Homo sapiens: one gene and its partners. The protein of the gene in region 2 purifies or fractionates together with the protein of the main gene of each other region. This does not show direct contact. Each region holds a gene or a part of one and is shown on either strand. Other genes may lie near its edges.

Region 1 (3,654 bases), on a different chromosome or scaffold from region 2:
TGTGTATCATCCTTGCCAGTCCCCAAATCATGACAAGCCTAAGCAAGGTGAAAGCACTGCTCATTCCCCTCTGTAATCACCTCAAACGTGCAGCCTTTTTCCCTGCCAAAGTATTAGGAATAACAATGCAGCCGCACCTGGCATGCCTGCTGCCAGACCTTGTCCAAATGCAAGGGCAGAATTCACTGCTGCAGCTGCCACAAGGGGATCCGTTTGCTGTCCCTGCTGGTTCTGGTTTGGGGTCAAAGGACGTTGGCTGGCTCCTCCACGGAGAACCTGGGAAAGGAAGACAGAAATAACTCAACCACTTTCTTTTCATTGGAGAAGACCTACCCTATGCTCAGGTTGGGTCAACTTTTAAAACTTAATTGTAAATTGTTTCCCTATAATGGTTTTTATATGTCACAGCTGTTAGCGTATAAATTCAATTAATAACATTTCATAGAGTGGAATTTCATTCTACCATTCTTACTTTAAACACATTATCTCTATAAGCAGCAAAAAGCACACAAAAGTGATGATTCATTCATTCAAACATTTTATCTCATCTGCCTCATAAAGTTCTTGTGACAATTAAGTTAAAAGATGAATTTGGAATATCTGGCATCAGCAAGTGGTAGTGTTATCAAATATTTAATGCCTACCATGTGGCAAATGGGCAAGTGAGACAGAGCAATGAACAAGACCGACAAAGCCCCTGTCCTCATGGAGCTTTTATTTTAACGAATGAGACAGACAATAAACCATACTATATAATGTCAGTGCTCTGACAAAAAGTGGGTGAAGAAAAAAAAAGAGTGTAACAGGCCAGGCGTGGTGGCTCACGCCTGTAATCCTAGCACTTTGGGAGGCCGAGGCAGGTGGATTATCAGAGGTCAGGAGTTCGAGACCAGCCTGGCCAACATGGCAAAACCCCGTCTCTACTAAAACTACAAAAATTAGCCAGGCGTGGCAGCAGGTGCCTATAATCCCAGCTACGAGAGAGGATGAGGCAGGAGAATCACTTGAACCTGGGAGGCGGAGGTTGCAGTGAGCTGAGATCGAGACACTTCGCTCCAGCCTGGGAAAAAGAGCAAAACTCCATTTCAAAACACACACACAAAAAAAAAAAAAAAAAAAAGAAAAAAAAAGAGTATTAATGGGGGTTGGGAGGGGTTCCAGACAAGATGAACAGGGGTAATTTACCCACACATTTAAAGTCAACTGAGTCTCACATGCACACAAAAGATGGAATGAGAATATTTCCTCTTTAACACTAATATATTTATCAAGGTCCACATGGCCCCAAATGAGTTCACCAGATTCGATTTGGTAGGGCTCTCACCTGACTATTTCTATTTCCCTCTCAGAAATTCCACAAACATACGCATTAGTCAAGTTCAGTGCAGAATACCAGTTATGCCACTCTGATAAAGGATCTACTTTTTTTTTTTTGGTGGGCGGCGGGTGGCGCGGAGTGCAGGGAAGAGACAGGGCCATGCTCTGCTGCTCAGGCTGGAGTGTAGTGTGGCACAGTCTCAGCTCACTGTAACCCCTGCATCCCAGGCTGAAGAGATGCTCCCACCTCTCCTGAGTAGCTGGTACTACAGGTATGCACCACCACACCTGGCTAATTTTTCTATTTTTTGTAGAGACAGGGTCTCACCATGTTGTTCAGGCTAATCTCTAACTCCTGGGCACAAGCAATCCACCTGCCTTGGCCTGCCAAAGTGTTGGGATTACAAGTGTGAAGCCACTGAGCCCAGTCAAGGATCTACTTTTTATTAATGAAACACAGACATCAAAATGCTAGCAATCATTATTATTCTGAATGATGTGAAGAATCTATCTCACAAGATCTACACACTCCAGCAAGCAAAAATGCAAAACCCACAAACCAAGGCTAAAATTACTACAGTTCCTAACAATGTGTTTTGTCATATTGTCAAGTGTACAGTTCTTATCAGATCACTTTCAATTTCACTGTGTTATTTATAAAAGTTAGACATATGGTCAAGAAAATGGGTACAAATTATTCTTGGTACCAGTGGTAAAAAAAAAATGTAAAAAGAGAAGCAACACTAATAACCAATTAAATATTTGTTAAGTGAGTATAAGGTGACCAACACTGTCCACACTGGCAAGAAGGGATGTGTGGACACTTAATTTGCCCAATCTTTTACTTCTATATCAGTAATAAGTAAGAATTAACAAATGATCTTGCAGATTTGCTGGAAATATCTCAAATAATGTGTTTAAGCCACACTGCCTGATACCCAGGAGATCATCAATAACCAATAGCAAATCACTATTATCAAGATATTATATAATTTGTTTCTGACCTAAAGAACCTAACCAACTTTGTAAGAGAAAGTGTGTTTCAAACTACGTAGATAGAAGAGTCGGGGGGCTGTACAGGTGAGTTTTACCAAATACTTAGAATTTACATACCCAATAACTCAAAAGAGATCTCACTCTAGGATAAGTAAATAGCAAGCATTTTTGCCAAATACTTAGAATTTACATACCCAATAACTCAGAAGAGATCTCACTCTAGGATAAGTAAATAGCAAGCACAGAAATATGGCAAATGCTAATAGTTCAAAATTGCTGAAGATTTTAAAAAACAATGAAAGCATTGCTTTCACAGAATATAAAGAAGTAGGTTTATGTTTGATTAGGTGTTCTGTGAAAGGGCAGGTGTGGTAGAGTGGACAAGGTACCTAAAGAGGTAGTCTAAGACTATTGATGAGTCTTGTAATAAGGAAGGAAAACAGTGTTAGCTTTTTGTCCACTCTCTAGAAATCTGTCCAGTACCCCTAACTACAAATAAAAGTCCTTCAGTTATCTGCCAAAATTCATATATTTTCATTTCATCAATAGCTGTCAAATCCATGATTTTATGGAAACAAAATATACAGTTTCACAAGTAACATTTTAAAGTCTAATAAATCACAAAATGACTGAATTTATAAAAACTATCCTAGAACAGTCAGCTTGACTAGAACGCAACATATACTTTCTGATAAAATACAAGGGCCCAAAAGGCCAACAGCAAAGTTTAAAAAGAACCTCTCATTTTAATTACTATGACAAGGCAGTTTACCAAAAAAATCATATTTTCCTCAAATACTTAAAATCAGAAACTGGCACCCAAAAAAAAGGAACTAAAACAATGGCTGCTAATTAAAAACTAATGCTAAAAACTTCTTAGTAGGGTTTGACAGAACCTGTAGGGAATGACAGAAAACTGAAAAGTTAATGATTATTATGTCCATTTTATAACAAAAATATATGCATTTAGAGAAGCCATCCAACTTGCCCTAGTTGTAAGCTAGTTAACGGCAGAAGAAACACAAGATCTCAGATTTTCTTTAAGTCAAGACATCACAATATGGTCAGAAGAAAAGTTGTCAAGACAGAGGCTTATGTTCAAATCTTAACAACTTTGTATTTGTGTGACCCTGGGCACACAAATTGTATTTCCTCAATCGATTTCCTCTCAATTATGAAATTCTATTTCATAAAACAAGAAGTTGTACAACTATCATAATAAGAGAAATAGAAATTACATGTACAGCACTTAACTCTGCACAGAAAGCTTTCAATAAACAGCAATTAGTATTATTCTTGTTCACTGTATTAGACCTAATTTTAAAACATGGTAATTACTTT
Region 2 (3,654 bases):
AGGCTGAGGCGGAGGGATCACCTGAGTCTAGGAGCTCGAGACCAGCCTGGCCAACATGGCAAAACCTCGTCTCTACTAAAAATACAAAAATTAGCCGGATGTGGTGGCACACACCTGTAATCCCAGCTACTCTGGAGGCTGAGGCACGAGTATCGCTTGAACCCGGGAAGTGGAGGTTGCAGTGAGCTGAGATCGCACCACTGTACTCCAGCCTAGGTGACAGAGAGACTCTGCCTCAAAACAAAAACAAAAATCAATATAATGGATGTATATTGACATGTTGTTAGTAATACTTTGAATATATTTAGTTTTAGAAAATTTACAATGTATTTTCACAGATGCCCTTTGACCTTCACAAAACCCAAAGAGGAAGGTAAAATAGATACCACATCTGCAATCTGAGGTCAATACTATACTTTTCTGGGTCTCATTTCCTAATAATAAGCTGGGAGGGTTGAGTTTCAATAATTTCTTAAAAAATCCTGGTGCCAAAAATCTGTGGTCTCAATTTATAAATATGAAAACAGAATTAGGTTAAAAAACTGGTCCACTGTCACGGAGTAAATAAAGAGTCAAACCTAGAAGGAGAACGTCTGTTTTCTGAATTCCAGTCAGAGGCTCTTTCTGTCACAATATTTCCCTTAGATGTAAAGAAAATTTGACATTCTTTGCCTCTCCTTTCTATTTTGTTTACTTTGAGTTTTTATCAAAATTGTAGAGACTTGTTTTTGTAAGAGCAGTGAAAAGAAAATAAGAGGTAAAGTGGGAGGCAGTGGTATCATACCGATAAAAGGAGTAAGGAAAAATGCAAATTATGCTGATAAATTTGTATCATCTATGTGAAAAGCTGGGCTAAATATATTTATTGAAGACTTTATGGGATATAGTCAATACGGATACATTTCTCCTTGATTTAAGACATTATTAGCACATACAGCCATACTCTAGCAGTGGGTTCAAACTTTTTAAAAAAACAGCAGAGCCAGGCATGGTGGCTCACGCCTGTAATCCCAGCACTTTGGGAGGCCACGGTGGGCGGATCACGAGGTCAGGAGGTTGAGACCATCCTGGCTAACACGGTGAAACCCCATCTCTACTAAAAATACAAAAAATTAGCCAGGTGTGGTGGCGGGCGCCTGTAGTCCCAGCTACTCGGGAGGCTGAGGGCAGGAGAATGGCGTGAACCTGGGAAGCAGAGCTTGCAGTGAGCCTTGATTGCGCCAGTGCACTCCAGCCTGGGTGACAAAGCGAGACTCCGTCTCAAAAAAAAAAAAAAAAAAACTCCAGCAGAAACTCCCCCCTTTATTCTAGATATTAGTAAAAGCTTATGCAGAACCCTAATTGCTCAGACTAAAGTACAGCTGAGACCTCAGAATTCAATCCATTTGGTTTCCTTTTTCTCTCCCAAACTGGCTCTGCAGAACAGTCTGCAAAACCACCACTGGGCTACAGATTAAATTTATATTCCATCTCATTCAGAGACCATGAGTCTAGATTAAATTTGGTAACTGATGTAACAAATTATTCATAGAAAATTTCCTTCTCAATGAGAAAAACTTATAAACCTTACTATATAATATGTAATCATGAAACAGAAAATGATACACACACAACCATACCCATGGCTGTTATCTCTAGGGCTAAGGAGAGCAACAGGTCCAGAATTATAAAAGTGATTAAAATATCCTCCTAATTTATTCCACTTATGCTCAGATGAATGAAAGTCAGAACTAAAAGTAAGAGTCAGTGGGCATCCAGGGGTATTACGGACAAGTCTAACATATTAGAAAGAGCTACAGCAGCTGAAAAAGAAGGTGCTCAGGTGGGATCCAATTTGGGTTAATAGGCAACTAGATAGCATGTTTGCACTGTGTAAAAGATGAACATTACTTAGAACATAACACCTTAATAACTAAAAACTTAGCTCAATTGTAATGACAAAGTTATTCTGTAAAAATAAAATACTCTCCCAGGTAAAGAGACTACTTCAACACAAATCAAACTGTCTTAAGACGGAAATAAAGACATTCTTAGAAGTTTATAAAAACTTCATATATTTACACAAGAATAAACACTCTTTCGAAGATTATAATTTCTTACCATTTGCATATGGTGTGACCATCTTCTTATTGGTCATTACACGTGCTGTAGCATTATTCACCTAAAAATAACAAGGAGAAAAAAGGGCAGGGAAGAAGTGGACCACATTAGGGAACATAAAGTTGCACATCCAATAACAGAGTATTTAGTTTAAAATGTAAATTTCTGAGAGCAGTGATTTAAATAATTAACACAGCAATATAAAATATTAATATATAGTATTTTAATTAAAGTTCTTATCAAATGAGGATAACAAGAGTAAAGTGAGTTTCTTGGTTTCCAAATATCAGTACTCCAAAGAAAATACATTTGCAAGATCTTTGGACATCTTTTTAACAGAGAAATCTCTGCACTAAGGAAAACACAGAAAAAAGTAAATAGGAAACTATATTAGCAATTCACTTTGAAGTCTGTTAATAAAACAGAGGCTTGCCACATGGGTTATGAAATAGATTGATGGAAAGGTGATAAAATAAATCTGATTTCACCTGTCCTAATGTTCAGCATTTTAAATATGTCTGTCAGAGATTTTTACTGTCTGAGGTAAGTAAACAAATATAGAAACCTAAGATTCCCCTGCTGACAGCCTTCAGGACCATTCTGAATTTTCTAGACTACATGGTCTATCAATTTAAGAACAAAGCTTTTAAGAAAGCCTTTAAAGTAGGCACTTAAAAGAATTGAGAAAATAAAGTGTTTATTTATTTTGTTTTATGGTACTCTCCACCCTCATTACAGAACTGCATATTTTAAAGCATTCTCAGTGCTAGAGTAAGTAGGTGTTACAAAGATGCTGCTGCTGAAGAAAAGATGAATGGAACTAAGATGTCAGCATACTGCAGCCCAGTGACAGAACCAGTCTCAAAGCTCTTGCAAGGAGGGTAAAGCTCCACCATAGAACTTGACTTATACTGTGTTGTCAGGTCATAAAACATGCCAATTGAAAAAAGAAGCATAAAATATAAATGTCTTATTTTTGCCTCTTCAAATTTACATTGTGTTCAATTTGTATGGTAATAAATTTTTGTTATGAAAAGACCAATTTTAGGTAGAATTAGAACTAAAAAAAAAACCTCTTCCTATGTCTTTTAAGATTTGTACAGTGATAATCCCCCATATGAGGAAAGAGCTTGAAACTCCATTTACTCTAGCTTCGCCCACCAAATAATATAAACGTTTCACATTTAAAAAGAAAGAATGGGATACAACAATGATGAGACTGAGAGCATGCAGTTAAAAAACACACACACACAAATAAAAGAAAGAAAAAACAATCAATTTTGGAAAGAGGGGAGAAACTGAAAAGCAAGGTTCTCACAGACAAGGATTAGAATGGAGCAAGAGCTGAAACCAGCTGCTGGAGCAGAAAGCAACCAAGCACTTAAAAGGAAAAATGGCCAGAACCAATCAGAAACCACCAGTCAGCAAAAGAGACCAACAGCTGCGTGTAACTGAAGGGATGGGAAAGGAAGAATAGGGAAAGGGACAGGAACAAGGATCCGGAAAAAGAGAGTAAGGTAGGGAAAAAGAAAAGAGAAAGTCAGGAAGGGTGTA
Region 3 (3,654 bases), on a different chromosome or scaffold from region 2:
TCAAGCAGTATTCTAGGTGCTAGCAATTCCACAGTGAACAAAATAAACAAAAATCTCTGCCTTCATGGAGTTTACATTCTATTAACAAAATTCAATGTCTTATAAAGTCAGGCAGCACACAGTGGGCTCAAAAAAGTACACAACAGGCCAGGTGTGGTGGCTCATGCCTGTAATCCCAGCACTTTGGGAGGCTGAGATGGGTGGATCACTTGAGGTCAGGAGTTCGAGAACAGCCTGGCCAACATGGTAAAACCCCACCTGTACCCCACATACAAAAATTAGATGGGTGTGATGGCGCGCACCTGTAATCCCAGCTACTCAGGAAGCTAAGGCAGGAGAATCACTTGAACCCAGGAGGTGGAGGATGCAGTGAGCCGAGACTGCGCCACTGCACTCCAGCCTGGGCGACAGAGACTCTGTCTCAAAAAAAAGTACAAAACAATTATTAGTTAATAAAGATCATGGTAGAGCATAGTAGCTAACACCCGTAATCCCAGCACTTGGGGAGGTCAAGGTGGATGGATCATTTGAAGTCAGGAGTTCAAGAGCAGCCTGGCCAACATGGCAAAATCCATCTCTACTAAAAATACAAAAATTAGCTAGGTGTGGTGGTACACACCTGTAATCCCAGCTACTTGGGAGGCTGAGGCATGAGAATCACTTGAACCCAGGAAGCAGAGGTTGCAGTGAGCCAAGATCACACTCCAGCCTGGGTGACAGAGCAAGTCCCTGTCTAAAAAAATAAATTAAAAAAAAAAAAAGTCGTAAAAACCAACAAATTTCAAATGCACTTAAAATAGTTTAACTTTCTCAAATTTCAGCTGAGCTACAGGAGATTGAAAAATTCCTTTGGTTGGCAGCAAGCCAAAGAACTGGAAGCCATTTGAGAATTCAGAAGTCGCTTGGGATCCTGCAATATCTCATCCGTGTAAGTCTCAGCTGCAGTTTATCCATTGCTTAAAGTCATATGCGTGGCTAATAATCAGGAACTAGTTACTTTCCTATTATATTAGCTCAAAGTATTATTCCTTAGGTAAAAATAGATTGTGTCTCACCACAGCACCACGGGAGTTTATTCCAGAACTTACTTTCCCTCATATCTCATAATGAACTAACTGTATCATCACCCAGAACAAGCCAGCAAATGACCATGGCAACCTTATTTTATGGTCTCCCACTATCTCACAACTAACTATACAGTCTTCACCACTGAAGTTAGAGAGGTGCTTCTGTCTCTGTGGCTGAATCTAACATTAACAAGCCAAAAACCAGAAGTAGCTTATATGAGCAAACTGCTGCTTTGCCTCTGCCTCTGCCCCATGTTAGTATCTTCTAATATCAATAAGCCACCACAGAACATGTCACTTACCATCAGACAAAGAAAACATTAACTGGTTTCTGTAAATCCCTCCTCTCCACTTGCAAGAATAACACAAATCTCAAAAGACAATCATAAGCAATTATAATTCAAGAAGGTCACTGAATAAATGAGTCTAGACCCTACATTTCAGAGAAGGGATAACCAATGCCTGAAGCAGTTGCATGGTTAGTCTAAGATAAGATATCTACTACAATGAAAGAGCCAAACTCAAAACCAGATTTTTTGCCTCCAAATCAGGTACACTTCTCAATACACCAAGGTAAATCTACTTCTATTTTAAGACTAGCAAGTACTGTTTCTAAGCCAAAGTCTAGTATTAAAAGGGCAAGGATATTACGAGATGCACTGGGAAGGAGACCAGGAAAAGACCCACCACAGATCAGATCAGGTATGTATCTCCTTCTCATACACTAATTCCTTAGATTATGATACAGAAAATACTTTGAATTTTTAGCTTGTGTTTGACTGTCACTTTCTCTGGTACCTCCTCTAGCAAAAAAAAAAAAAAAAAAAAGCCTGAAACGTGACTGAAATCCATTTATTAAAATTCTATGGAGCAGCAATGGAATTGGAAAAAGCAGGCCGGCAGAAGAGAAAGCTATGTAAACCTGGGTTAATTCTTACTCATTCTTCTAATTTAGCTGAGATGTCAACTTCTTTTAGAAAGCCTTAATTCCTCCTTCCCCAGACTACTCTCACAGCAGAGTTATCAGTTATCACTGTACTTGCCTCATGACGTTTTGTTTACCCACCTCTAACCAAAAGGACCAAGTTCTTTGAGGGCAAAGATTTCTACCTTAGCTCTTCAATCCTACATCTAGCACTGAGTGTAGCAGCACACAGTGGATGCTGAATTAATGAATTCATAAACTTGCCACATCTATTGAAGCCTCAATATAAATGGCAAAATGTGGCAATCCTATTTATTTATTTATTTATTTATTGAGATGGAGTCTCGCTGTCACCCAGGTTGGAGTGCAGTAGAGCGATCTCGGCTCACTGCAATCTCCGCCTCGCGGGTTCACGCCATTCTCCTGCCTCAGCCTACCAAGTAGCTGGGACTACAGGCGCCTGCCACCACGCCTGGCTAATTTTATGTATTTTTAGTAGAGACGGGGTTTCACCGTGTTAGCCAGGATGGTCTCGATCTCCTGATCTCATGATCTGCCCACCTCGGCCTCCCAAAGTGCTGGGATTACAGGAATCCTCTCCATTGACTTAAGATGTGGTTCTCGGCCGGGTGCAGTGGCTCACGCCTGTAATCCCAGCACTTTGGGAGGTAGAAGCAGGCGGATCACAAGGTCAGGAGATCAAGACCATCCTGGCCAACACAGTGAAACCCCGTCTCTACTAAAATACAAAAAATTAGCCAGGCATGGTGGCGCACACCTGTAGTCCCAACTACTCAGGAGGCTGAGGTAGGGGAATCGTTTGAACCCAAGAGGCGGAGGTTGCAGTGAGCCAAGATCATGCCACTATACTCCAGCCTGGCAACAGAGCGAGACTCAATCTCAAAAAAAAAAAAAAAAAAAAAAAAAAAAGACGTGGGTTCCAAACATTTTCTAGAAGACCTTTGATTTTGTTTTTTTTGAGGTGGAGTCTCACTCTGTAACCCAGGCTGGAGCGCAGTGGTGCAGTCTCGGCTCATTGCAACTTCTGCCTCGTGGGTTCAAGCGATTCTCCTGCCTTGGCCTCCTGAGTAGCTGAAATTACAGGCAGGCGCCACCACGCCCGGCTAATTTTTGTACTTTTAGTAGAGACCAGGTTTCACCAGATCAGGGCCAGGTGCGGTGGCTCAATGCCTGTAATCCCAGCACTTTGGGAGGCTGAGGCAGGCGGATCACCTGAAGCCAGGAGTTCGAGACCAGCCTGGTCAACATGGTGAAACCCAGTCTGATCACGCCTTACAAAAAATTACCTGGACCTGGTGGCACACGCCTGTAATCCCAGCTACTCAGGAGGCTGAGGCATGAGAATGGCTGGAATCCAGCCGGCGTAGGTTGCAGTGAGCCGAGATTACACCACTGCACTCCAGCCTGGGCGACAAAGCAAGACTCTGTCTCAAAAATAAATAAATAAAACTGTCTGAACTTATTAATTCAATGCAAACACAACTATACCCACATACTTTGAGGGTCTGGAGATCTATTCAAGCCATGAACAGTGCTAACTCCAGCTATGCACTCCTGCCAAGATGCTTAAATGTTATCCACTTATTGAACAATGACCACTTGCGTCAAATACAAATTCCCATACTCCCTCAGGGTAGAAAA

The links.
Region 1: the proteins of RBFOX2 (region 2) and PUM1 purify together in Homo sapiens (affinity purification with mass spectrometry; 3 studies listed by BioGRID and IntAct, with this or other methods). This does not show direct contact.
Region 3: the proteins of RBFOX2 (region 2) and EIF4G3 purify together in Homo sapiens (affinity purification with mass spectrometry; 3 studies listed by BioGRID and IntAct, with this or other methods). This does not show direct contact.

The regions. Positions count from the first base shown.
Region 1 is NC_000001.11:30,968,217-30,971,870, forward strand, and holds part of PUM1 (pumilio homolog 1), read right to left. Parts: intron 277-3,654; coding exon 138-276; intron 22-137; exon of another isoform or gene 1-21. UniProt on the Homo sapiens protein: Sequence-specific RNA-binding protein that acts as a post-transcriptional repressor by binding the 3'-UTR of mRNA targets.
Region 2 is NC_000022.11:35,763,323-35,766,976, forward strand, and holds part of RBFOX2 (RNA binding protein fox-1 homolog 2), read right to left. Parts: intron 2,162-3,654; coding exon 2,101-2,161; intron 1-2,100. UniProt on the Homo sapiens protein: RNA-binding protein that regulates alternative splicing events by binding to 5'-UGCAUGU-3' elements. Prevents binding of U2AF2 to the 3'-splice site.
Region 3 is NC_000001.11:21,170,244-21,173,897, forward strand, and holds part of EIF4G3 (eukaryotic translation initiation factor 4 gamma 3), read right to left. Parts: intron 1-3,654. UniProt on the Homo sapiens protein: Component of the protein complex eIF4F, which is involved in the recognition of the mRNA cap, ATP-dependent unwinding of 5'-terminal secondary structure and recruitment of mRNA to the ribosome. Functional homolog of EIF4G1.